4 linked regions of the Homo sapiens genome follow. The protein of the gene in region 3 interacts with the protein of the main gene of each other region in a biochemical or structural test. Each region holds a gene or a part of one and is shown on either strand. Other genes may lie near its edges. The genes, in order: BMF, RPH3A, MYO5A and DLGAP1.

Region 1 (7,027 bases), about 12 Mb from region 3:
GATCTGCCACCACACACGATTTTGGTTCTGCTGGTGCTGAAGGGAGAAAAAAAAAAAAGACCAACATAACTCCCAAACGCAATCTTAGACGACTCCCTCTCATTTCCAGTAAAAGTTCAGATCTCCAAGTCTCACGGCTGGCACTTTAATCCTATCAGTACAGCTCACAGCGGGGAGGAGGGGGAGGTGAAAGAGACACTGCCATGTGGAGGAGAGAGTTGAGTTCTCCAAAAACAATTGCAGTTTTAACATTAAAAAGAAAAGACTAGGCTCTATATGCACTATGCACAAGAGGATTAAGCTTTTTCCCCTGCTTGCAGGATTTTCCAGAGTTTAGCCAAGTGCTGCTTTTAATCAGATTGGCTCCCGAGCCCCTCAAACCTCAGCTGCATGAACAACAAACTGGCTTCAGAAAGAGAAGAAGTGCCCCCCTCTCTCCCCCGACTCCAAAGTAACACAGAGAACAAGGGGAAAGGGGGGGCCTCCATCTGCAAGTGATTTGACACTGTGAAGGTCAAAGGGTTAATCTTCAATTTAAACCACACTGCTGAGGCAGCAAAAATCTGATTTCATCCAGTGCAAACACGCACACACACAGACTCACACACACACACACACACACACCCTTGTGCGCCCGCCCGCTCTCCCTCCCCAGCATCTCCAGCTCGGTGCTGCCCTTTTTATAGATGCTCTTGACAGTAAGCCATAAATAATCCCTCTTGGAGCGCTCTCCTACTGACTGGAGCCAATTAAACATTAAGCAAGAACATACTTGAAAACAAAACAAAAACAAAGAATATATACTATGCTCTGGAGGTTATCCCAGGTCCTACTGTCAGGCTGGGAAGCTAGGGGCAAAGTTCAGGGGTCAGTGGCTCACCAGATTGGGGCTGGTGCCCTGCCCACACAGGTACCATTTCCCAGGAGAGGCCTGGGGGGGTGGAAACTGGGGGGTGCTGGAAGAGGCGGTCTTTGTTCTCTCTTTGTCTGCCAGGGCAGGAGGACTGGGCGGGGGCCTCTCCACAGGGTTCTCACTGGACAGGGGAATAAAAACCTAGTGTGCAGAAAGGAGCCAGCACGGGCTGGACTTGGATTACTTCAGTGGCCCCGTCAGCAAGCAAGTTTACATGAGGTGTCCAAGCCTTCTCTTAAACTGTCTTTAACCACAGCACCAGCCCCCACCAGGCAACTACTCCTGGTCAGATGGGAAGAGGAGAGAGGAAGCCAGCGGCACAGCTGGAAAGGGGGCCCAGGTTGCCTGGACTCCCAGAGCTTCCAGGTTCTGTCCAGCCCTGGCCTCCCTGACCTTTCCCAGGGCCACCATGCAGGTTGCTGGCTTCCCCTTCACGCTGCCCTAGGCCACAAAAAGAGAGGCATCCAGGCAGCTGGCCTCAGGGCCTGACAACCCAGGTGAACACGGAATGCCCCCGTCCATCATGGCAACAGCATTCCTCCTTCCCCCGTGGAAGAGCCTGGAAAACAACCCGGCAAGCTGGAGGCGCAGCTCCTGCCCGGAGGGGAAGGGAAATCGGGCGTGCCACAGAAGAGGCCTGGCAGACAGAGGGTGGGGAGATGGATGGCTTCCTCGTGTTTTGTAAACAAAGATGAGTAAAAAGAGGAAACACACCCGGCTTAACAAAATCTGGTTAGAGTAAAACAGCGTGAAAATGGACTCAGCTGCAAACCCGAAGCCTCCGGCCTGCAGCAGCTGGGCCAAAGACCCCCTCTCCTCCCCTCCCCAGCTGCTGACCGAGACAGGTGCAGAGGTCATGTGGCCGAACAAGAGGAGAATCCAGGAGCAGACTCATCCCTGGAGAGGCCAGTCTGCTGGAATTCCAGTTCTCCTGAGGTGCTTGTCTGAGAAGACCGGTGGCAAGAACAATCATCACCTCATAATAGTAACGTGGGGTTAGGGTGGCAGTCGGGGGTGGGGAGGTGCCAGGCTCTGTTCTGTGTGTTCTGCATCCTTGCTTCTCAAAGGGTGGTCCATGGACTAGCAGCCTCAGCATCATCAGAGAGCTGCCTGGAAATGCAGACCCAGCATCAGAAGATTCCCCAGGTGATTTTGAGGCACATTATCATGCCCATTACTTAGCGACCACATAGCTAGTTTAAGTGGCAGGGACTGGACTGAACCTAGACCATCTGGCCCTAGAGCTATGTCCCTTCCCATTATCTCTGTGCTCAGAGTGCCACTACCTTTCTTTATACCAAAGCAGACCCTCTAGCCTCCCCTTTACTAAATCATCTCAAAACAGCTCAATGGCCAAGGAAAGCAGATGAGAATTCTATGATTTGGGGCTGAGGCAATTCTCATCTCTGTATGCCTCAGTTTTCTCCCAAATTCCACTAATGGAGGCCACCTACTCCCTGGGCAACTTGAGATCTCTGAAGATGAGGCACAGACTCCCATCATCTGGGAGCGTTGGGGGACTCAGAAGCAGCTGTGGGCCAGAGAGTGCTTTCAGACAGGAAGGCTGAGGTCTTGCAGGGGACCCAGGCAGGCCTAGGTGCAGGAGGCAGGATACATGGGCCGGCCCTTGGGAAGGAACTAGTTTCCATGCCTCTGCGTGTGACAGTCCTTAAGGCTCATGAATTGGTAAGGAAGGCTCTATGGTGCATGGATCCCCAGGGACCAGGAATCAGAGGACCTGGCTTTCGGGTTGGATCTCCCATCAACCTGCTCATGAGTTCTCTCTTGGCTTATAAGGAAAATGCAGGTATTGTACTAGATCAATGGTTTCTAAACCCAACTGTGTCACTAAGCCAGCTGAGGTGCTCTTGTAAGTATAGAGTCTCCAGGCCTCTCCCAGACCCACTGGGTCAGAATTTCAAGGAAGGGTCCCAGGAATCTGTATACTGAACAAGCTCCCTTGGTGACATTTTAGAGATCAGAAATCATTTATTGTATATTTTAATCATAAAAGCAATACATGTTAATTGTAGAAATATTGGAAAATACAAGACATTACAGAGGAGGAAATAAAGTCACTCATGATCCTCCAGGCTAGAAAACACTTCACGTGTTGGTGTTTTCTTCAGTCCCTTTCGATCTCTTTCCACCAAAGTAATGTCTTACCCCACTGGCCAAGCCAGAGGTCAATCCTGCCCAGGTGGTTCTGTGGCAGCCAGGCCACAGCCTTTTGGAAACCACAAAGGTGCTCTCCAACCCTAAGGAGTTTGTCATCCACGACTACCTTCAGGATTACAACTCAGAGCTCCAACAACTGAATTCTGTCAGCTGAGTGTAGGGCCTGGGAACCACCCATGGGCCCATGAGCCCTCTCTGGCTACAAGCAGATACCACACAGGCTCCCTTTGGCCTTCTCCCGCCTCAGGGCAGCCCTCACAAGACCCTTTTCCATGAGGAAACCAAGATAATCAAAGAATGCCCTGATTACAAAATACAACAATAAATAAAATTTTTCCTAAAAGTTTAACAAAAGGGCCTGACTAGAAAGGAAAGAAAAAAGACTTGAAGGGAGGCCAGTGGGAGAAACAGTGAGGAGGAAGGAAGTTGGCCTTCACTGAACAGGATGAAGAACACAAAGATACCAAAACACCAGAGAACGTGGGATCTTCCACAAGAGGGTGTGGAGGAGAAGGGGAAGAGAGGGGAACCAGGAATGAGTGTACTTGGCCTCTGACCCTCAGGCACCCGGCACAGCACCCAGCGCACAATCTGAGATCAACAAGGGCAGATCCCCAGAACCAGGCCTGCCCTCCTAGACTCAGCTAGGGAACCCCTCACAGAATGGGAGTTCCCAGAATACACAGTCAGGGTGACCCAAGGGTCGGGGCTGGGATACAGAGGAGGGGAAGCTCACCCTAGAGCCCTCGGACTCACATGGTTTAGAAGGCAGGGCCAAGGAATGGAGGGAATGAATAGAGGTGAATGCCCCCAGGGAAGGTGCCCTAACATGGTAGATCACGGTGTTCTCTTCAATGAAGAGAGCACAAGCAGGCATCAGAGCCCCATGCGGCTTCTTTGGCCCAGCCTCATTTTCTTGCCACGGACAGGGGATGAAGGCAGTCAGCTGACAAATGTTTCAATCCCTACTGTGTGCAACACCCTATGCCTGAATGCACAGCTGCTCATCCTGTGTAATGGGGAACATGGAAGGCATACAGTAGGCACTCAACAAGGGCATGCTGGACCGACTACAGAGGAGTCAGCCCTGAAAGATAACCCACTTGTCTGAGGCCAGGAACAACTGATGTCTGGCCAGGTCTAAAGATGTACTTTATGTGATAGTATCAGCCTCACACCTGGGGAGAGGCCCAACTAGTAAAAGGCCTCCTTTTTTTTTTTTTTTTTTTTTTTTCTCTAAAGAGCTGGCTGTGGTGTCTGACAAGGTTGGATTACATAAATCAAACTCTGTTTCATCCCACACAGCCTCTGCCCTAAGCACAAAGCGTGTTCCCTACGCTCCCTGGATAAGAATCTCCCTCTGCCTCTCCCCTTTTCAGATCCAATTCATACCCTCTGGGGGCTCTGTGTGTCACCAGTGTTCCAGATGCTCCAGCTAGAGCTAATTCACCCCAAAGTATCAGAGGAAGAAGCAAAGCGAAGCCGTGTGCAGCTCTAAAAGAACCTAACTCACAAAATGCAAATTTACCAAACAGAGAGCAACTTATAATATCTCAGATACAGAACAGAGCACTTTCCTTTCTTCTCATGTGATCCTCACGATAGGAAGAGCAGGTATTAATCAACCCATTTTAGAGCGACGGAAACAATGGCTCAGAAAAGTCATCCCAAGTTAGTTGGGAGGGGTGTAATTTGAGGCCCTGACTTCTGACTCCAAAGCTATGTTCCTTCACTAAAATTTTACAGTGTGTTTATTGACATTATGAAAATAGCATTACCTTTTTCAAAGCAAATCACCACTGATCTGCTCCCCTAGTATGCTTAAAGACATTGTTTCCAGATCATTAACTATTTAGTAAGGACGCTGTGGACCAGAAAAAAATAACCCTTTCAGAGGCAGAGCTAACTGAAGATCAAACAGAAATAAAGCTAAAACTGGTCTGAAATTATAACTTCAGACTGTGATCTGAAACCACACTCAATCTCTTCAAAATGCAGAATTGTCTATACTCTAGGGGAAGGTGCACAGTCCACGATGTGAAGTTTTCCTCCCTCTTCCCTTTTCCCTGTCATTCTCTAAACCTACTCAGGCCAAGGCTGAAAGAAAGAGCCTTGCAATTAAGAACAGGAACATTGAGAGCAGGAAAATTCCTGCTTGAAGGAAGCTAGGAAGATGTTTTCTGTTGAAATAAGGACATTTTAATGAAGCACCCAACTGAGCTATCAAGCACCCAACTGAGCTACCAAGCACCCAACTGAGCTACCAAGCACCCAACTGAGCTACCAAGCACCTAACTGAGCTACCAAACACCTGAGCTACCAAGCACCCAACTGAGCTACCAAGCACCTAACTGAGCTACCAAGCACCCAACTGAGCTACTAAGCACCCAACTGAGCTAAGAGTTATGTGGATACAAAGATGATTAAAATATTATAAACTTGGTTCTCAATTGTTTTACAATATAATGGGGAGAAGAGCAAGAGCACCTAGCTGAGTATCACATGAGGCAGAGCGGGTTGGGGCAGCAAATGTGTGCTTCCTTGTACCCTTGTTTTCCGGAATGTGATTGCTGGGCAGCAGGTATGGGGCGATTGGACCATGGTTCCAGAATCCATCAAATCTGTATGACGCCTAGCTCAGCAAATTACGGTGTGACTTGGACATGTTACCTCACTTCTCTGAGCCTCAGTTTCCTATAACACAGTGGCAATGGAGTCTAAAAGTCCAAGGTTGCTGTGGTGATTACGTAAGAAAAATATACATGAAGCACTGGGCCTGGGGGCTGCAAGGAGCAGGCTCCTCCTTCCCTGGGGAGCACAAGGAAAACCTGGGACTCACTGGCTTTGCAGAGCACGTCTCTCAATATGCTCTGCAACAGGGCCGGCCTGGGGAGCACCATCTTCCCGGCAGACTCACGAAATCCCTGGGAGATCCCTGACTTTCTGCTTTGAGACTGCCCACAGCAGCCACAGGCCATGGGGCTCAGGATTCTAGGCTGCCAGGGTAAGCCAAGGATTCTGAAACCCAGAGGGCAACCCCTTGGACCCAGTGGGCCCACTGCCTCAGACTGCTTCTGACCCAGAGGCCCGAGGAACGAGCAACGTGGCAAAACGGAAAAGGAAAAAAAAGACTCCTTGCCAAGAGCTTCCTCAGCCCAGCCAGCAGTGTTAACAGGACATTGAAGCCACCATGGCCACGCCCATTGCTTCTCTAAGGAAAAAAGAGCAGTCCGAAGCCAGCCAGCTCTCAGTGGAAGATGGCAAGGCTTCCTCTAACGCAACTGGAAGACACTGGCTCCAGCCACTGGGGGTTGAGGGGTACGGTTCGGGGACAGAGCTGTGCTGCACCATCCATGTCCCCAGACCCTTGTTTTGCACCTCCACAGCCTGGAGGGAGGAACTACTGAGACCCTTACTCAGTTTCCTTCAAGCTGAGAACAGCTCCATCAAACTACTGGGCAACTTCTTCAGAGCTCAGAAGGGCACAATGGTGTGTGCCCTGGTTAAAGAAGGGAGAGGGAGGGGGTTCGGGGGACAAGCCTGTTGTGTGTATTATGCTATGCAAAATAACCCCAGGTTCTGACACTCGACTTGGGGTCTTTTCAGCTGACTGTTCATGTCCTGTCCAGGACCAGGTCAAGGCAAACCAGGCAAGGAGGAAGGATGGAACCCTCCCCTTCACACACGGACTGATTGTGTGCTCTGGTCATGGAACATGACCTCTTGGCTGCCAGACATGGATCAAAAGGCAAACCAGTCATTTTTCTTTAACCTTCTTTCTTTGTGTCTCCCTTAGTCCCCTCCTCCCATCACCCACTTTCCAAAAAAAAAAGCCAATTTCCATCCCATGGCAGGCCTTGGTGGGGAGGGAATGAACTCTCCGGAACTACAAGGCCCTTCTCCTGGAAGAGAGAGCAGTCAGGTGCAGAGTGTGTG
Region 2 (7,027 bases), on a different chromosome or scaffold from region 3:
ATATATACTGTTTCTATATATTCTATTGTATATATATGTACACTATATTATGTGTGTGTATATATATATACACTATATAAATACACAATAGAATATTGTGTATTCTTAATTTATGCCCAGTGTTCCATTATTGGAATGCTAAGCTTGTAGGAGTTATTTATATCCTACTGCTCAAAGTCACCGTCAAGGTCTGGTTTTTCACACAAAAATATTGCAACCTCCAGCATAATGGGTTAAAAAGGAAAGAAATTCTGACACATGCTACAACACGGGTGAACCTTGAAGACATTATGCTAGGTGGAATAAGCCAGTCATGAAAGGACAAATTCTGTATTATTCTACTGATACGCAGTACCTAGAGTAGTCAAAACCACAGATACAGAATCAAAAAGAGTGGTTACCAGGGGCTGGGCAGAGAGGAGTGTGGAATTATTTAATGGATACAAAGTTTCAGTTTGTAATGACAAAAAAGTTCTGCAGATGGATAGTGGCATGGTTGTGTAACCGTGTGAATGTACTTTACACCACTGAATTGTACACATGAAAATGGTTAAAATGGTAGATTTTATGTTATATATATTTTACAACAATTAAAAAATAATTTTAAAAGGCATTGTCAAAAGAAACTTTACCTCTGGAAGAGAAAAGAAAAAGTACAGGCTTTGAGATTGGACACACAGGGAATTAATTCTCATTCTAACCAATTATCAGTTGTGTGACCTAAGGCAAGTAGCATCGCCTCTCTGAGGCTCAGTTTCTCCATTCTGTAAAATGCGAATAACAGAAGTCTCATACGTGGATTTTGGAGTTGTGGCAAACATTAAATGAGATAATGTATGTAAAAGAACTTGAGACGGCATTTGGCACATAGTAAACACTCTATAAATACTTCCTGATGTTGAGGATCTGGAAGTTCCTCTTTCTCTGTTCATCTGAACCATAGGTTCATTGTCGGGGGGAGGTCTGGGCAGATTATGAAGCACAAGGTACGTGCCCAGCTCTGTTGCCAATAAGAGGAAGTGAAGTGCTAAGCTACAAACACACAATTCAGGAAGAGAAGGCCAGATGTATGTGGGACATAAATATTCAGCCAATCTGACTTAGACCCAGACACAGCCCCTTCCTGCAAAAGAAATGAAGCCGCTTTGAGGTCTCAGACAAGGGGCCATGGAACAAAGATGTTCCAATATGGTAGACATTTCCTTCAAAGTCCTGTGCTCCATGACCCCTACCAATGGGCACTCTTACCAAATAAACCCACCAAGAGTGAGGCCAGAAATGTGAGGTACCCAATACGAGCACATGTCAGTGACATCCTGGCCATGCTGACCTATGCCATATGCCCAGACAGCAGAGGCCATTGCCAAGGGGAGACTTGGAGAGATCTTTGAGAGTGAAGCATCCTTACTTTGTTCGAAGCCTAGGGGCATTTTTCCCCCAGGGTTTTTTTTTTTTTTTTTTTGAGGCGGGGAGAAAAAAAATCATGCTTTCTGACATATGGTATTACAGCAAGAAAAGGATCTAACCAAAATTATGGATGTCTAGAGCCAGAATTGTTTCTGAATCCTGTCTTTCCTCTACCATAGACTAAAACCAGTATCTGGAATAGAACACGGCACACAGTAGGACTCAATAAATGCTGCCTAAGTAAATGAATAAAAACACAGTTCCCCTCATTCTTTTTGAGTCTCCCTATCCAGAGAACTGTCTCTGGATTTGCCCATCTTGCTCACCTGCTGGGCTCCGGCTGGAGTCTCCAGCACCCCCACTGTGGTCCCAGCTCTCTGAATCTCGGCTAGATGAGCTCATTCGTGCCTCGGAGGCCCTGCGCACGGGAGGCCCATAGTTTCCTCGCCCGGGAGCAGAGGCTGGGTCAGGGCCTGGAAAGAAGAGCATGAATTGAGTAGAGAAAGGGCATCGAGGGAATTAGGTGAATTCGTGTCTCAAATGACAAAACAGAGTCAGCAGAACCCACCTGTCTTCTGACCCGGGCCCCTCCTATCTTCACTGTCACCTGGAGAAAGAAAACACAAATTATGAGGAGTACTGGTTTTCTGGTGTCTGGAAAACCGGTACTTAAGAAGCCTACAAAGGGGTTCATTGACTATTGCCTAAGAATATGTTTTAAAAATTAAAAGTCTTTCTCCCAACCTCCTCTTTGATCTAGCTCCTGTTTACAATTTCACATTTTTTTTTGCATGCACAAACACATATGAGCATACACAGGCTTTATAAAGAACAATTATGCTATACAGCCTTCTCAGCCTAGAAGAACTAGGAAGAAGGAGTATTTTAGTGGTGAAAACTGGGGACTCCTCAGGGATGCAATATATGTTGGCAATTTGGTGATTCTCTGCAAGGAGTAGAAATTGCTCTTGCCTTGTCAGGAAGAAAACATTTGTTGAATGCCTCTTAGGTGGCAGGCATTGTGCTAAGTGCCTTGATAAGTTATCTTATGAAAAACGCTGTACCCTTCCTTTCAGAAGTACCGCCTGCACTCAATCTGGAATTGTCATTTAGTCCAGATTTTATCACTTAGCATCAATTGAAATTATTGCAAGGGCTTTATCTGGTCAGTCCTAGTGGTCTAGTCCAACTAAAATGTATTTTTACTATGGTTGCTTTTTAAAATTTTTACTGTTTTGCTTCTCCCTCTTAATCATTTTAATAATTAATCATAATACTTGGATAATAGTGATAATGTCAATAGTAGCAATTTAGTAGCAGTAATTTTCTTTTACTGATTTCCTTCTATTCATCTTTCACTTTTAATTAGTCCAAATCAGACTTGCTTATGGATAGTAGGAGAAATAACAGGGTCCAGGAAGGCCTTCTCAGCAAGCCGAGTATTCTCCCAGGCTCCAGTGTGATCTTGGTGGTGAAAGTCTCTCTCAGTTCCTAATTTTAATTTCCACCTCTTGTACACTAGATATGCCACCAGGGATGACAATGAAGCCTCTGGGCGGCTTGGCATTGCTGGAGAGTTCCCTGTGCTACCCTCTTGGTAACGATTTATGGTGAACTCTGAAGGAGATATAGGAGTCCTAGACCCAAGTGCAGAAGCTGACCATGCAACAACTGGGTGGAAACACAGACATGATGTCAGGCCATCCCTCAGGTAGACCAGTTGGCTAAGATCTGTCCTTGGTCCTGAAAGAAGCACCTGTTTTGTCCTACCTCGAGCTGGAGCCCGGGCAGGGTGCTTGGGCTCAGGAGCAGGCTGTTCAGGGGCAGCAGGCTCACTGACAGGCTGCTGGGGCTTGGTCTTCTTTATAGGCATAGGCTGTGGGAGGACCTGTTTGGGGAAGCCTTTGAAGAACCACGCTCCAGAACGCTTCCACACCTTGGGGAGGAGAGACAGGGATTGAAGATGTGGCAGCCAAGCGCTGTTGCTCTTACCTTCATGAGTGCCCATTTTTATCTTTCCTCCTCATCCAAAGCACACTGACACAATAGCCAGCACACTTTTATTATTACTACAGAGCCCTGCACAATTCATATTTATTCAGCCCATCCACCCTGAAAACTCAGTAGAAAGGGCTTCAGTTTACCCATGAAGAAAGTGGAGTTTGGATGGAGAAAGGGGAATATCCAAAATCTTAAGGACTGGTCCAATAGTACACAGCTAGAGAATGGAAAAACAAGGGCTCAACTCCAAGTCTTCCATCTCTTAAATGTGGCATGCTCTCCACTACACTGGTTGTTGTGAAGAGGGTGATCTACCTACAACTTCCCCAAGACCTCTGGCCTTTCTCCTGGCCCTGTGGGTCAGAACAGAGCAGCACACCTAGGACGGTGTGTGAAACATCTTCCATTGCCCCGTCAGATTCATTCTCCACCCTGCTCTGTGCCCCAGGAGGCTGACCAGTATGGGCTGCACTAACTGGACTCCACCAAATAAACCTTGACCTCTGTCTTCAGGTTTAGTTGGTCAAGGAGAGCACCAGGGATTACAACAAAGCCTCTTGAAAGCTTGGATTGCTGAAGAGTTCTCTGGGCAAATAAAGAGTTTGTAGCAAAGAGGAGGGTGGGACTACGGTATTTATTTCCTTGGCTCCCCCCAACCCACTGCTAGTTGGACAGTGACTGCATTCCTGTTAGGCTACACCTATCTTCCTTTCTGGTAACCATTCCCTCCTCTATCTCTTCAGCCTTAGAAGGGGAAACAGCAAACCTGTTTTTGCTGGTGCTAGGGTGACTCGCCAACCCTTGCTGATTCCTCTTAGTTCTGCCCGGACCTTTGTCAATAACACCTTCATCAAGCCCTTGATTATCCTACTGAAGTGTGCCAATGCTTTCCTGCCAGGCCCCTGACAGAAACTGAGGAGAACATGGTTATTGAAACACGGTTTCAAAGGCAGGACTCTGCAGCAGTGGATGGGGGATGAAAAAATTGGGAGAAGGAAAAAGGACTTAATTGGGGTAAGATGAGTAAGAAGCAGGACTGGGGAAGAGAAGGATGCCTGGGAGAAAGAAAGAGGACAAAGTAAAGAGAAATCGCCGAGAAAAGGGTGTGAAGATGTGAGAAATAACAAAATGAGGAAAGGGGAGAAAAAAGCAGTAAGGATTAGAGGAAGAAAAGGGCTCAAACAAGAGGAGAGTGTGAGGAAATAAAAAAATGGAAATAAGAAATGGAATAGAGAGAGAGAAAGGAAAGATGTTGGGAGAGGAAGACCCATAAGGTGAGAAATGGGGTCAAAGAAAGAACAGAGGCCAGAGGGCGATGAACAGAGAGGGAAGAAGAGAGGATGGGAAGGAAGAAAAAAAGTCACAGAAGCAGAGGAGGAGAAATAATTCATCCAAATACTCTGAGGTTGTTCTGTCAATGTTCACTGCTGAGCTGGGTCCTTTCATACAAACCTCTTAAGGCACCTCTTAAGCTGGCCAAGAAAGGAGGGTGATCTAGGCACCAGGTGGGACCAGGGCACTCACCTCCCTCTGCTCAATGCAGATTTTGCAGAGCCACACAGAATGCAGGCGGTTGTTGGTCTCCACTCCGCACTTGGTGCAGACGTTCTGTGGATGAAACACAGCCAACACACTCAGATGAGCCATGCTCATGGGAGGCATGGCAACGTAGCCCCCCACTTTCTCTTGGTGGATGTAAAGAGGAAGAACTTGCTTCCATTTCTCCCACTTCCTTCTATGAGCAAGGCCAGTTAGAATAAAACTCCAATTTGAGTCTTGTTTCCAATAAGAACTTGAGTCATTCCCAAGCACTGGATGAAGGAATTCTTTAAGAGTCCCTGTGGGATCTGAATTTTCATCATCCACACTGGGGAGATCACTGACATACTTTTTTCTAAAGAGGAATGACCATATATCCATTTTTTATCTTAATTTATTTCCTCTTTATTTCCAAAACGGACCTGAGACAACCTAGACTATGACTAGAAGTTTAACTCCCCAAGGAGAAGAAAGTTATCTGAGAAAATGCCATGGCTGTGTGATGAAATACTGTATTTTTTATTGAATTTCCTGGAAGTTAAGACAATTAGGAAAACTTAATGGGTCACAAAATTCTCGCTATCGAGTTGACTGGCAAGTTTTTCAGAATAAACTTTTCGCAAGATTTCATTCTACATGTCAAATGTGACATCAAGCTGGAGATGATGACATTGTAGATGTCTCCAGCTGGGTTGTTCAACTGAACTCTTGGAGTCCGGCAGACCCCAGGACAGTTGTATCTTTGCTCCCAAACTGTCAAGTGCAGACAGTTTAAGGAAAGGTTAGAGGGTGAACAGAGTTCAGGATTACTCGCCTTTGAGAACAAATGCTTTGGAAGCCAAATAATTCTAACTTGGCTTTCTAAGTTTCTTGTATCAGAACCCAGGATACGAGAAAACTGAAAGCATTCCACATACACACAAGTATAAACATGTGCTTAGCATGCTCTTTAAACTGACACATAACTTGCTAAGGTACAACCAGGATATCTGCAGGCTCAATCATTGCTCATGTTCTGCCACAGGCTCCCTAGTTCACCCTGGATGGAGCTCAGCTCTAAGAGACAGAAGGCTCAGAGTGGCTTCCAGGGAGGAACCAGGATCAGGGTTACGTTGGAAGACAGTAGGGCATGGAAGCATCCCAGAAAAAAACCATATCCTGGCAAGTGATCTTCAGGATCCAAGCTCCACCCCCAAGACCCAGTGACCCCTACAGCTGGAGCCTAGGACTTTCCCCTCTGCAGGTGCTGCACAGGGAAGAAGGGAGAAGAGGATGATGATACCTTCTTACAGTCCTCACATACTACACAGGCAGAGCCCAGCATCCCCAGCTGTTCTCCACACAGTATGCAGCGGTTCACCCCATCTCCAGCCACGTTCTTCCTCATGTTTTCTAGGCGGTCCACCAGGCGTCTGGAAGCAGAGACAAGGTAAATAAGGACCTTGTAGGACTGGGGACCACCAGCATACCCCACAGTGTCAGGTTGATAGTCTTCACCTTCTTTGAGTCATACGCTGTTGTGCGTCTGATGACAGTTGTGAACTCTTCCCCAAGAAAAGGCACATGCACATAAAATTCTGACGCATTTTCAGAATACCAAAGACCTCCCTCCCACACCCCTCAAAGTCCCATCTATTCTACTGACTTTGGATTAAGAACCTTATCTAGTCCTTTCTATCTTCTGTCACCTCCTCCCAGAAACTGCCTTCTGAGCGTTAAATTTATTTAGGTCTATTTATCTGTCTCCATCATGCCTTTACTTGGATGTCTTCATAGGCATCTCAAACTTACCCTTTCAAACTCAACTTTTCATCTTGGCTACTCTCCATCTCCAGCTCTAGCAAACCTGCTTCCCAGTCTTGGGAAATGTCACCACCATCTACATACTTGCTCAAACCAGAAACCCCGTGGCAGGGGGGTCTTCCTTGACCCCCTCCTCTCCTGACATTCAATGACCCAACCGAATTCTTTGGCTCCACCCCAGCCCAACTGAATTAGAAATTCTGCCCTGAAATTGTCAAGTACAGACAGTTTAAGGAAAGGGTAGAGGGTGAACAGAACGCAGGAAGACTCCCCTTTG
Region 3 (7,027 bases):
TCCATGAACAGAGGTCACGGCAATACAGATCCTCTTCAACGCGCATGCACACGACACCCCTCCTAGCACCCATCAACACCTACGGCATGCACACACTGCAGTGCCCACGCACACACTGACTTGTATATGGCCTGCCCAGTGACAGCCCTCGGAAGGCACCCAGTGACTTGGGCTCCCCTGTGCTGAGGACCTAAACTGGGAAGGTGGCCTATAGCTGCAGGCCTGTCCAGGCTGCACAGCTCACCTGGTGGCTCCAATAAAGACTCTGATGGGTGTGGGGAGAGTAACTTTCCTCTTAATTTCAGAGAGGCTTTTGCTGTTTCCTGTCTTTTTGGTTGAGACAACCTGCTACCAATTAATGCCCAAACAGAGTATTGCATCCTCCCAGAGAGCACTGATTCATGACAGAAGTCAAGCTGAGTTATAGCAAGTAACTATGACAAAAAAGAAAACCACCTGGCGCTGAGCACTTGGTCTCCTTAAAACAAGTAACTTGGTACGCAGCACTTGCTCGGTTCCCACATGCCAGCTGCCAACTCTGATAAAAAAGCACCCCTTGCTGGCCAGGGGCATTCCACACGTACCAGGAGGGGCAGCACGTGACCTCACGACATTTTTAAAGTCTCCTGCATCACAGGTGCCCACACCACCACTGCTCCATATGGGAAAGCAGGACAGCCAGAGGGCTGTGCGACATCAGGCAAGTCACTGCCCCTATCTCTATTCCCAAGCTATCATCAGAAATGATTGTAGAAGCGACCCCACCTACCGTCCATGCTGCTGTGAGGATGAAACGAGGTAACAGAGGAAAGCGCCGCAGGAAAGCATATCTGGACCCAGGTACTGTTTCTGCATTACTTTCAACAGGATGCACTAGTTTTGGCTCTGTTTTATCACTAAGCAGCTGACATTACCCAGAGGATCCTTGACTATGCCTGCTAAGGAACTCTATGAATTAGTGACGGGGGTGTGTGTGTGTGTATGTGTGTGTGTGTGTGTGTAAGAGAGAAAGGGCATTGTGTGAGGACTTCTCAGGATGGTGGCAGGTGCCCATTTTCCTAGGGTTACCATGAAAGTTATTTCTCACAACAATCACTGCACTGAAATTATAATAATATAGTATTTTCATAGCCTCCCCTAACATGTAGCTGTAACCTTAGTAAAAGATTTGATCTATATTACACATAATTACTCACCCAGAAAGAGCCAACTATGAGCTATCCATGGAAATGAAGAAATAACACAGCAAATTCTCCAAACTGACAATAATCCCCAAATTCCCTATCAGTTGGCTTCGGAATATGTTTTTGTGCTTCTGCACCTGACAAAAGAAGCATCAGATATGTGGAAATTTTTTAAACTTCCAAAGGAATTAGAAGCTACACTTTGTGGATTTTATCCCATATTTATCTTCCCTCCTTTTAGAGTTACTCTCAGGCAGATCAAAGCCTTAACCTGAGGAAAAGCTGCAAAAAGGGAAATTACTTTTAAATTTTCAGCTTCAAGTTGTAAGGGTGTGAGGTGAGTCTGCATGTAGTAAGGTGAATGGGGAGGGGATTATTAAGATAAAGAACTGTTGTGACTTTTAAGATCTCTTCCTTTGAATTCCCATTGTGTGTCACAGAGGAATTAAGAAAAAGTTGATGACTGATCTTCTGAAGGAATGCATGCAGAGAAGTAAGAACAACAAGGACTGTGCAAAGATTGGGCTGATGGTAAGCACCAGGAAGGCCAGCAGGGGCAACTGAGGACTGACTCCATCCACCTGCCTTCAGTGCACAGTCAAACAGCAGGCAACGGGATAGACGATTAAGTTGAGGGAAGGGGAAGAGTGAATGAGTAGGGGAAAGGCTGGCAGGGTGTGTCTGAAGTTGGGTGAGAAAGTGTGGCTGACAGAGAGAAAGAACCTCAGAGGGAAAGCAATCCTCAAACTGGCCCAAAGATCCCCATAGTCGGCAGAATCTTCTTGTACCTTCAAGAAAATGGTATACAGAATCATTTACTGGGCCTTGGGGTTCCCTGGTTACAAGGTATTCTTGTCAATGACTAAAAATCTCCAGGCCACCAAGAGAGGTTAATTCAGACCCCCATCTGGAGCTCTGGGTAGACCTGGGAGGAAGCTGGAGCCCTGGAATAGCAGAACCTTTGTGCCACCATCGCTGAACAGGAGAAACCACCAAGGGCAGCTGTAGGAGCTCTGGCTCCAGCACTTGACAGGACAAAGACAGGAGATGGGAGAGAAGGGCTCAGACCACAGCCTTTCTTTCATGACGCTTCAGTACATGAGCTGTCCGGAGTAAAAAAAAGGGCTGCATGGCAGTGACAGCTACAGCATGACCTGGAAGACCTGAGAAGATTCAGGGTGCACGTTGAGTCGTGCTACACAGGATGAAGCTGGGGGAGGTCTGGGAGATTTCCAGGGCTGAGGCGGACAGCCTGTACCACGTTGCATTTTCTTAGCAACTCCCCAACTTACAGCCTATCGGATGCTGTTAGATTCTGACACATTTGGTACGAACCAAATGGCTATGACTTAATTGTGCATTGAAAACCGCATTGACAACCAGGAAAAACTGGGAGAATTTGATGCAATTGGTAGTGTTTCTGGTTGATACTGCAAATAAATAAATAAATGTATTCAAACTGAATAAAGCAATACATGATGTAATAAAAATTACTTAAACTAATTATAATACAAATATAGTAGGACCTTCTAAAAGCATGTACATAAATCATGTACATTTAAGAAAGGTTACAGCTACACAAACTTGTGATTTTACATTTGATTAATCCTAAGGAATTGACAGGCACTACACACTGGTCTTTCCATCAGAGAATGGACTTACTGAGTAACTGCAGCTTTTTCTCTCTAGAATCTAAGGGCTGAGAAGAGAGAATTTTAAATGTGGAGGAGATGTTAAGAATCAGTGTCCAACTCTCTTATTTTATAAACGAGGAACTTGAGGCCCATGTAAATTAACAGACAGTATTTATCTTTTAATAACAATCTTTATCACTGATATGAAGCTGTTTGACTTCCATAAATATTGCACATATTTTAATAAGATTTATAGACCATCTAACAGTTAAATTTATATAACCTATGATTGTAATTCAGAACCAGAGTTTCTAATGAAAACTAATAATTTGCTTTTGTGCAACCTGAAGGATTTATTGTATAAGATTCCTAAGAAAAATGGTGAATATGTTTAACTAGAATTTCAGAATGAAAACTTACAGAATCTGGGTCTTAATGAACCAAATCCTCTGTAAAATTCAACAATCTTCTATTTCTTATATAAGTCTTCTTAAAGTATTTCTAATATGATGCTTTTAAAATTATCTAGTGGCATCTGAGAACACTTATAGAAGCTGCAAAGCCTTAAAAACTGAATCATAATGAAATATTTATTATATACCTTCTTTTGCATAATCAAAGTTTCAAGACCTGAATCGTGAATATTCTGACAATCCTCTCTAGATAGTGAGTGAGATTCTTTTTTTTTCCAAGGCAGTGTCTCTCTCTGTCACCCAGGCTGGAGTGCAGTGGTTCGATCTCATTGCAATCTCCGCCTCCCAGGTTTAATCGATTCTCGTGCCTCAGCCTCCCGAGTAGCTGGGATTACAGGCAAGTGCCACCACGCCCGGCTAATTTTTGTATTTTTAGTAGAGACAGGGTTTCGCCATGTTGGCCAGGCTGGTCTCCAACTCCTAACCTGAAGTGATCCGCCCACCTTGGCTTCCCAAAGTGCTGGGATTACAGGCGTGAGCCACCGCGCCCAGCCGAGATTAATTCTTAATAAATTAAGAAGAGAGAAAACCTGTCAAGGTTGAAAATATGCACTGAAGGAATCAGATCTGGTAGTTAAAAATAAGTCACTTCACAGAACACTGTACCCTGACGCAATATCCACCCAGGGAAAATTAATGAGCACATCAATGTAATACATCCTGAATAAATAATGACATCAACAATAGCCACTTTGTCTAATCCTACCCCTAAATGTCAAGCATTTTGTCATATTACTACATGACTTTCCAGTGTCTGCTACTTGTGCAGGTGAATCTGTAGGTATTTGCATATAATCCAGTTAAAACTGTGATCTGATTGAATTGTAAACAGAATTGACAAGAGAAACTTATTGTAGTGCCTAATATCACTTACATTTTAAGAAGACAGTATGTAGCAGCAATTTAAAATGCTCAGTAAACTATAGTACAAATGGACATCTATACTATTTAGCAAACCAACATTCCTTTAATATCTCTATATCATAGTGACACAAATGAGGAATTACTTTACATATTGCCAGTTTATTTCTTTGAACCAGTTTAACAATATCAACATAATTGATTACTAAACTGACATGATATGTACTCAATGGAGACTTTTCTTTCCATTCTCCTGTTTAGTGCAGAGGAGGTTCTTTGGTGCCTTCCTAACAACAGCTCATCTATGGAAGTTATACTTTTTATACCATTCAAACTCAGTGCTAAGGATTTAAAATAAATGCTGCCAGCTGAAGACACATTTTTCTCCTCCTTTCCTTCCTCCCTTCCTTCCATCATTCTCCTGTATGTAAACTCACGGTACCTAGTTGGTTAAGGATGAGTGTTGCTATAAAGATAACACAGCACGAAAGAGCCTATCTTTGTTTCCAAAGTGATGAAAGTATTCTAGGGAGATTTCCAGTTAATGACTTCTCATTTGGGAGATAATCAGTACTTTCTCTTTAAAAATGTATTTTCAGTAACTCACTGGAAATAATGGGTTCTTATTTCGGGCAAGAAATGTATTGTCAATTTTTGCCTGGACATCACTTTCAGACCCGTGAAATGAAGCCCAGGCCGAGGCTGGCTGGAATCTGGATGGTTTCTAGTGCGAGGGAAGATGGGTTGAAAGGAAAGGTGACAGGAAAGATGTGTTTAGCATCCATGAGCAGCTGGGGAGAGTCTTTCCTGTCTCGTAAACGCATCTGAGAAGATTAGGAAAAAAAATAAACAGAGCATCAGTTCTTTGAATCTAAAAGACTTTTTTCTACTAAAATTTCTACCCTCAAATTCTCAACTAATGAAGAATGTTTACTTTTGTTTTAAACTCACTTCATTTTCCCAATTAACTATTATCAAAAAAGTTAGTGCATTGTAAAATAAGATAATAAAAGATAACACATTATCCTTCAATAAATTACAAAATGTCCATTCAAAAGACTGTGTTGGTGAATCAAAGAAGAAGATGGGAGCTCTTACCTGTATAGTACGAATGAACGACACAGAGACTCTTTCTTCAAACTCATTAACTGGAGTATACAAATTCAACACTTTCACAATCTGTGAGAAATGAAATGATCAAAGTTTTTGGCATATTATCAAATACACACTGGGTACCTATAATCTGGAAAATTAAAAGGATCTGTGCGTACAGATTTCAGTTCTACTCAGGGGTGGGCTGGGACCAGAAGGAAGGAGGAGCTGGTCTGCACATTTACCTTTATCTGAATTTTTACAAGAGAATGTATCAATGTAATGTTTGTGTAATATTGTAAGAAGCTGTGTAAATTTCGAAGATATTCAAATAGCACAAGAGAATAAAACATGAAAAATAAATGTCCGCACTTCCATCCTTCCAGTCTCCCAAAGTGGCAATTGTTAACCATGTCCTGAACACCCCCTCTAGCTGCTATAAATATTCTAGTTCATTTTATTTTTATACAAATGGGATTCATTCTATTAATACTATTCTGCAACTTTTCTCCATATAAAAATGTTAGCCGTATTAATACAATTATCTCTTTTGAATGTTTTTTAAATCATATTTTTATAAAAGATCATAAATAACATGAATAACAAAAGCCCCTAAAGAAATTAATCAATTAGAGAGTATGAAGTTCTTTTTTAAAAAGTTCAATAATTTTTTTTTGTAAAATGGTCATGTCTCTTTTCTAATGAAAATAAATCATCGTCTATATAAGGTAGATATTTCCATTTTCAAGGTATTGTCTAAACCTGTGCTGTCCAATACAACAGTAGTAGTCACTAGCCACATGTGGCTATTAACACAAAATGAAAATAAAAGTTGAATGCAGGACAGTGCTGATCTATAGGAAAATAAATTAAGCACCAGAGAACTAGAAAGTGGGCATGTTGTTATCAGGTCTGTGGGTGACAAACTGAATTAGGGATCAGTCTCTCGGAGGCAAGTATTTGAATTTTAAAAAGTGGGACCACTTTGTTAACTAATATTTGCTAAATAAATAAACTGCAGGTCTGCCTCACTCTGTGAAATATGCTTAAAGTATATTTAAGTATTAAAGTATATTCTTTAGAAGTTGAATGGCAGCCAACTTCTATAAAGTTGGGCTTCCTCCAGGGTATTCTTACTTTCCACACTTGCAGAAACTGGGAGGAAATCTCAGGACCATTGTTCTGTCAGATAGTTCTGCTTTATTCTTAGTAAGAAGTTATGCAAACATGAATTCAACATTAAGAAGCTGCAAGTCTTGATTCTGATTGTCTACTGATTGACTTTTTTTTTTTTTGAGATGAAGTCTCTGTGCAGTGGCACAATCTTGGCTCACTGCCACTTCTGCCTCCCAGGTTCAAGTCATTCTCCTGCCTCAGCCTCCCAAGTAGCTGGGATTACAGGCACCCGCCACAATGCCTGGCTAATTTTTGTATTTTTGTAGAGATGGGGTTTCACCATGTTGGCCTGGCTGGTCTTGAACTCCTGACCTCAGGTGATCTGTCTGCCTCAGCCTCCCAAAGTGCTGGGATTACAGGTGTGAGCCAGCACGCCTGGCCTACTGATTTTTTCTGTTGCCCAGGCTGGAGTGCAGTGGTGCAATCTTGGCTCACTGCAACCTCCGTCTCCCAGGTTCCAGCAATTCTCCTGCCTCAGCCTCCAGAGTAGCTGGGATTACAGGTGCCTGCCACCATGCCCGGCTAATTTTTGTATTTTTAGTAGAGATGGGGTTTCACCATGTTGGTCAGGCTGGTCTCAAACTGATTGAGTTTTAATTGTATTGGG
Region 4 (7,027 bases), on a different chromosome or scaffold from region 3:
CTTAGAATTTGGCTATGCCTGCCAAGTGGGATTGGCCTCTCTTCCTTACCGCCCCTCTTACAAAAAAAGAAAAGGTTAAGTCAGAGAATTGGTGAAACAAAGGCCCTCTGCAACTCTAGGCCCAGTTATCAGAACAGAGTGGTGCTTGCCAAGGAGTCAGGGACAGATCTGCATGGCGGGCTTTAAGGAGGACAGTGCCAGGCAACGCAAAGTATCATTATCTTGTCAAATGTTATTCATGTGTATCTGTTCTATCAGACACTTCTGTTTTCTGTGACCTTGGACAAGATACTGCCAGAGAACTGTTGTGAGGGCAAATAAAACAGCACCTGTCAAAGTCTCTAGGCCATCGTCAGGGGTATTGTGAGGGCAAGATGAATATTCTTTCATGCACTGATATTTTCCCTTCTTCCTGGAGAGGGTTGCTACTGCTTTATGGTCCAATTCTCCCTGATCTGGATTGGCCGCATTTGAAATTGGTGACTCTGTCCTGGGCGCAGGGTTTGCCACGGCACTGACTAGAATTTTGGAATCCCAGTAGTTTGAAGCTCCTATTTCGTGTCTCTCAAAGTATGAAAAAATAGAGAAAGCCTTCAAGTGTTTGTGGAATGGAACTGTGTCTTAAGAATGAGACAGGACACACAAGGTTCATCTGGACTAGCCACCTGTCCCACACGGAAGTGCTTTCCATCACTTCTGTGGCAGGTGCCCATCTCTCTCTTCCACATCCTTGTCCTGATCAGAAGAGCTCATCATCTGTCACGGGAACACCTTTCCAGCTTTTGGCAACAAGAACTGTTAGTTACTTGCTATGGTCTGAATGTCTGTGCTCCTCTAAAACTCATATGTTGAAACCTAATTACCAATGTATAAATAGTAAGACAGGGGGCCTATAGGAGGTGAGTTGGTCACAGGGGCAGAGTCCTCATGAATAGGGTTACTACGCTTATCAAGGAGGCCCAGGAAGCTTGTCTGCTGCCTCCATCGTGAGGCTGCAGCAAGAAGGCGCCATCTTTGAAACAGAGAGCAGCCCTTGCCAGACACCAAACCTGCCAGTATCTTAATCTTGAACTTCCCAGCCTCCAGAACTGTGAGCAATAAATTTCTATTGTTTATAAATTACCCAGTCTAGGGTATTTTGTTATAGCAGCCTGAAAGGACTGAGGTATTACTTATTGAAGTTTTTTTTTAGCTAATTAGGAAGAAAGGTTTTGCTAAGTAAAATACTTTTATAAAACAGAATTTCCAGAATATTTCAAGGACTCAAATACATATTTACTGATCCCCTGTTATGCGTCAGAGGGTCTGGTGATATGAAGATGAGTAAGACAAGAATAATTTCTGTTTTCAGAAAGCTTACTTTTTAGTGGAAGAGAAAGATACATCGGTTATTATAAAATAATGTGGGAAGTACCTGAAGGACAAATACACAGGGCATTACAGGAGCACCAGGGCGATACCCAGTTCAGCTTGAACAACAAATTAGGCCTGGAACAACAGATGGTTGGGCAGTTCCCTCATGTTCATTATCTTGGGACTTTGCCAGCAGTGTACATTTCAAAATACAAATACGTTTCTCTTTCATCCTGAACATAGGCTGAGAAGCTGGTTTTCTGACAAGATTTTCAACCTTTCAAATATATGTTATTGTATTACAATACAACTGACTTGTTTTCCTAGCTCCTTTAGTTTTTCCTAAATCTTTATACAATGAGTATCCTCACACATCATTATAGAGTTGGGTTGAGAGAGGTAGATCAAGTCTCAGACTGAAAGGCCCATTAAAAGAAAACAACAGATAAGTAGTTTCCAAGAGTCCTGTTGAAAGCCAGCCAGGAGCTGGGTGGGTGGCTCATGCCTGTAATTCTGGCATTTTGGGAGGCAGAAGTGGGGGGATTGCTTGAGGCCAGGAGTTTGAGATCAGCCTGGGCAACACAGTGAGAATCTATCTCTATAAAATTTTTTAAAAATTAGCCAGGCATGGTGGTGCACACCTGTAGTGACAGCTCCTCATGAGGCTGAGGTGGGAGGATCACTTGGGCCCAGGACGTCCAGGCTACAGTGAGCTATGATCCCATCACTGCACTCCAGCCTGGGTCACAGGGCAAGACTCTGCCAAAAGAAAGAAAAGAAAACCAAAGAAAGGAGGGAAGAAAAAGAAAGAAAGAGAGAGAGAGAACACCAATCAGGAAGCTAGAAGGAGAACCAAATTTGAGAATTGAAATCTGAAAGTTTGTGCCATTGAGCAGTGGCACGGGATGTCATTGTTCCTTAGTTGCTGGCATTTTTCCTAGGAAAATCTGATAAACTGTGAGTATGTCCACAAGGAGAAAAGTGAATAAGATGATCCAACTAAGACTTTCTTACTGAAAACTACCCCTGCTCCCACTGCTGCTGAGACATACCTTGTTTACCTGTCACCAGGGCAAAGACCTAATTGTGCTTGGGGGTCAACACTCAGGTGAGTCTGCAGTGGCACTAACAGGGGCAAATGTCAAGGAGATTTACTTTTCCACTGCCAAGTTGTTTGCACTCATAATATGAAGAAGCAAAGGAAACCCATTTATGGGTTTTACAGAAACCCGTTAATGAATTTCCTAACTTGCCCATAAAGGCAAGCGATAAGCTAGTCAGTCATTTGACAGGGGTCAGGCAGGAGGAGCAGACTGGAGCTGTGAGTGAGAGAGTGGACACAGTGAAGATATCCCCAGTCTGATGACAACTGTTATTTTCCAGACTCCATTTCATTAAAAAAATGATTCCCCTAGGGAAAAACTCACTACTCTTTGACACCACTAGTTTGGTGCATTTAGTAAATGCACTTAACATGATTTATAGTAGATGTTAAATCTAATTAAGAAATTATTGGCCGGGCGCTGTGGCTCACCCCTGTAATCTCAGCACTTTGGGAGGCCGAGACGGGTGGATCACCTGAGGTCAGGAGTTCAAGACCAGACTGGCCAACATGGTGAAACCCCGTCTCTACTAAAAATACAAAAATTAGCTTGGCATGGTGGCAGGTGCCTGTAATCCCAGCTACTCAGGAGGCTGAGGCAGGAGAATCACTTGAACCCAGGAGACAGAGGTTGCAGTGAGCCAAAATCAGGCCATTGCACTCCAGCCTGGGTGACAAGAGCAAGACTCTGTCTTTTAAAAAAAAAATTATTGTTTTTGTTACGTACGATAATGCATGATAATATTTTACCTTTTTTTGAGTCGGAGTCTCACTCTGTCACCCAGGCTGGAGTGCAGTAGCTGCGATCTCTGTTCACCGCAAACTCAATCTCACGGGTTCAAGCCATTCTCTGCCTCAGCCTCCCGAGTAGCTGGGATCACAGGGGCCAATCTCCACACCCGACTAATTTTTGTATTTTTACGAGAGATGGGGTTTTACCATGTTGGCCAGGCTGGTCTAGAACTCCTGACCTCAAGTGATCTACCCGCCTCAGCCTCCCAAAGTGCTAGGATTATAGGCATGAGCCACCGCACAAGGCCTATGATTATACATATAAAAAATGTTTTCTATAAGTGTGAGCTACATAGGGAAGTGACACGATGCCTTGGATTTTCTTTTTTTCTTTTTTTGGAGACAGAGTTTCACTCTGTTGCCTAGGCTAGAGTGCAGTGGCACAGTCTCAGCTTGCCGCAACCTCTGCCTCTGGGTTTAAGCAATTCTCCTGCCTCAGCCTCCTAAGTAGCTGGGATTACAGGCGTGTGCCATTGCACCTGGCTAATTTTTGTATTTTTAATAGAAATGGTGTTTCACCATATTGGCTATGCTGGTCTTGAACTCCTGACCTCAAGCGATCCTCCTGCCTTGGCCTCCCAAAGTGCTGGGATTACAGGTATGAGCCACCACACCTGGTGCTGGATTTTCTTAAAAATACTCTGACAACAATAACTACAAATGGTGGAGACAAGACTGGCCAGTTGTTGAAGCAGGTGACGAGTACATGGGGACTCATCATGTTAAACTCTACTTTTGTGCATGTTTAAAAATGTTCATAATAGGCCGGGCACAGTGGCTTATGCCTGTAATCCCAGCACTTTGGGAGGCCGAGGCGGGTGGATCACCTGAGCTCAGGAGTTCAAGACCAGCCTGACCAACATGGTGAAACCCCGTCTCTACTAAAAATACCAAAGTAGCTGGGTGTGGTGGCACATGCCTGTAATCCCAGCTACCTGGAGGCTGAGGCAGGAGAATCACTTGAACCCTGGAGGCAGACGTTGCGGTGAGCCAAGATGGCACCATTGCACTCCAGCCTGGGCAACAAGACCAAAACTCCATCTCAAAAAAAAAAAAGAAAAAAAAAGAAAAAGCTCATAATAAAAATTGAAAAAGTAATTTAAAAAACAAGTCTAAAAAGTTACTTCATAGCAATACTCTTTTAGATGCTTTGCACACAGACATGAAGCAGGCATTAATGCCTACCACCAAATTTCCTTGTTTCAAAAATATCATCAGTTGGAGGATCCACCATTAATTTAATAATAATGTTTCAGAGGAAAATAAACATACAACATTAAAATACATACTGATTATATATAAGCTACATTCTAATTTCAGAATTGTTGAAAACATGTAAAACATGCCTCAGAATTGAGGTAATTTGATTATTTTTCTTTTTCAACTGTTAATATAATTTGACAATTTTTCTTTTTCAATTGTTAATTTTTCTTTTTCAAATGTTAAAAGGTCAAGTTTGAAAATAATAGTGTGCAGGCTAGGCACGGTGGCTCATGCCTGTAATCCCAGCGCTTTGGGAGGCCGAGGTGGGCGGATTGCCTGAGTTCAGTAGTTTGAGACCAGCCTGGGCAACATGGCGAAACCCCGTCTCTACCAAAAATACAAAAATCAGCTGCACATGGGGTGCATGCCTGTAGTCCCAACTACTTGGGAGGTCAAGGCTGGGGTGAGCCATGATTGCGCCACTCCAACTTGGGTGAGGAGTGAGGCCCTGTCTGAAAAAAGAAAGAAAAGAATAGTGTGCGAAAAAGAGTGTCCATTATTTATTTTATGTATTCATCGTGTATTTCACTTTAGCCCATTCAACTGTAATAAGATTATAAAATGTGTTTCTTTGGCAGCTAAAGGGTTTGCCCCTGTAAATCCTAAGAGAAAGTGCCTGTCAAACAGGCTTAAGAATACAAATAGGTGGGGGTTTCTAGCGGCCTATACGTTATAAGCCTTGTTTTAATGCTGTATGTTAATGAGAATAACAAAATCATAAAGAATATAAATCCCCAATGTACCTGTATCTATGGACCTTGAAAAAAGTTAGTATTATTTATATATTTATTTTTAGAGATGGGTTCTTGCTCTGTCACCCAGGCTGGAGTGCAGTGGTGTGATCATAGCTCACTGCAGCCTCTAACCCCTGGACTCAAGTGATCCTTCCACCTCAGTCTCTCGAAGAGCTGGGACTACAGGTGGGCACCACTGCACTGGGCTAGTTAGAATTATTTTCTTTTTTTATTTAAAAAGAATTTTTGTGGGTATATAGTAGATGTATATATTCATAGGATACATGAGATGTTTTGATTAGAATTATTTTCAATCCCCTGAGGATCAGCAACATTCCAGGATCATCTTGGAGAAGAGGGACCAAGTTAGAGACATGAAAGCACCTCCACACAGAGCTTGGTATTTTCAGAAAGAAAAAGAACGTCATGGGCCTAGAGCTAAGGACAGTGTTATATCTACCCAGGAGTTTTCTTGGTTTTGTGCTGTGCAGGGACTTCTGGACTCAGCTGGAATCACCTAGCTCTCCTGCATGTTCTGGTTTGGGGTGTGGAACGTCAAGGTTATACAAGTGAAGCTGGCAGAGAAGAAAACAACAAGGTCTGCACACACAAAGCAACCCCAGCCCCAGGGGACGGGTGTGGCACGTGGTGGCATTACTTACTGTCTTCGGGCAGGTTGTTTTCCCGTTCTTCCCGCTCCATCTGTTGACACCACCCCTCCATGCGGTCTCGCTCTGCCTGGAGAAGCTTCAGGAACCAGTGGCCATCCCGGTGGCACACTGACCTTTGCACGGCCTCCAGAGGGTCTTCAGTGATAGAGTCAATCCAGGGGTCCGGAGGAGGCAGAATAGAGGGGTCAAAATCCGTGTCAAAGTCATCATCGGCGGCACAGGCATGGTAATGGTTTCCTGAGCCCTGAATGCTGACTGTGGAGGTGCTGGCATCGCGGGAGAACTGTCTGGCCATGGGGCCAGGACACGAATTGTCCTCTATAGATTCCAGAGAATTTTCCAGATTATCATGGAAGTCCAGGTCGGCCTGTACTGCTGTCGTCACACTGTTGGATCGAGTGAACCTGCGGAAGCTTGGGAGAATAGAAAAAAGAAATTTAGTTAGAGGATATTTCTTTCTTTCCTTCCTTCCTTCCTTCCTTCCTTTCTTTCTTTTTTTTTTTTTTTTGACAGAGTCTCACTCTGTCTCCCAGGCTGGAGTGCAAGTGGCGTGATCTCGGCTCACAGCAACCTCCACCTCCCAGGTTCAAGCGATTCTCCCACCTCAGCCTCCCGAGTAGCTGAGATTACAGGTGTATGCCACCACATCTGGTTAATTTTTGTATTTTTAGTAGAGAAGGGGTTTCACTGTGTTGAACAGGTGGGTCTCGAACTACTGGCCTCAAGTGATCTGCCTGCCTCTGCCTCCCAAAGTGCTGGGATTACAGGTGTGAGCCACCGTGCCTGGCAAGGATATTTCTTGAAGCAAAACTACTTTCTACTTTACTTGGCAGGTGTGACCATTAGAAGTCTCATCTTCTCAATCTTCTCTGTGTGTGTGTGTGTGTGTGTGTGTGTGTGTGTGTGTGTGTTGGGGGTGGTGGTGGCAGGGGTAGACCCTTGAGGCAAGCATATTGATTGTCATAGCTTCAATGTGAAGAGCACGAATCTCATTTTTGCTCAATATGGAATATTAAAGCATATCAAGAGAAATTTTATAGGTGGAAAAGTGCTGAACTATTAAAGCCAGTAGAATGTGCAGCTCTGTCATCCATTACCTGAAGTGTCCAACT

Evidence for each region.
Region 1: the proteins of MYO5A (region 3) and BMF form a complex in vitro, tested with the Homo sapiens proteins (one study listed by BioGRID).
Region 2: the proteins of MYO5A (region 3) and RPH3A form a complex in vitro, tested with the Homo sapiens proteins (one study listed by BioGRID).
Region 4: the proteins of MYO5A (region 3) and DLGAP1 form a complex in vitro, tested with the Homo sapiens proteins (one study listed by BioGRID).

The regions. Positions count from the first base shown.
Region 1 is NC_000015.10:40,091,853-40,098,879, forward strand, and holds part of BMF (bcl-2-modifying factor), read right to left. Parts: intron 2,024-7,027; exon of another isoform or gene 1,751-2,023; intron 37-1,750; coding exon 1-36. UniProt on the Homo sapiens protein: May play a role in apoptosis. Isoform 1 seems to be the main initiator.
Region 2 is NC_000012.12:112,864,746-112,871,772, reverse strand, and holds part of RPH3A (rabphilin-3A), read right to left. Parts: intron 6,360-7,027; coding exon 6,230-6,359; intron 5,017-6,229; coding exon 4,933-5,016; intron 3,344-4,932; coding exon 3,178-3,343; intron 2,015-3,177; coding exon 1,976-2,014; intron 1,881-1,975; coding exon 1,734-1,880; intron 1-1,733. UniProt on the Homo sapiens protein: Plays an essential role in docking and fusion steps of regulated exocytosis.
Region 3 is NC_000015.10:52,308,873-52,315,899, forward strand, and holds part of MYO5A (unconventional myosin-Va), read right to left. Parts: intron 5,332-7,027; coding exon 5,251-5,331; intron 4,977-5,250; coding exon 4,824-4,976; 3' UTR 1-4,823. UniProt on the Homo sapiens protein: Processive actin-based motor that can move in large steps approximating the 36-nm pseudo-repeat of the actin filament. Can hydrolyze ATP in the presence of actin, which is essential for its function as a motor protein. Involved in melanosome transport.
Region 4 is NC_000018.10:3,528,288-3,535,314, forward strand, and holds part of DLGAP1 (disks large-associated protein 1), read right to left. Parts: intron 6,329-7,027; coding exon 5,907-6,328; intron 1-5,906. UniProt on the Homo sapiens protein: Part of the postsynaptic scaffold in neuronal cells.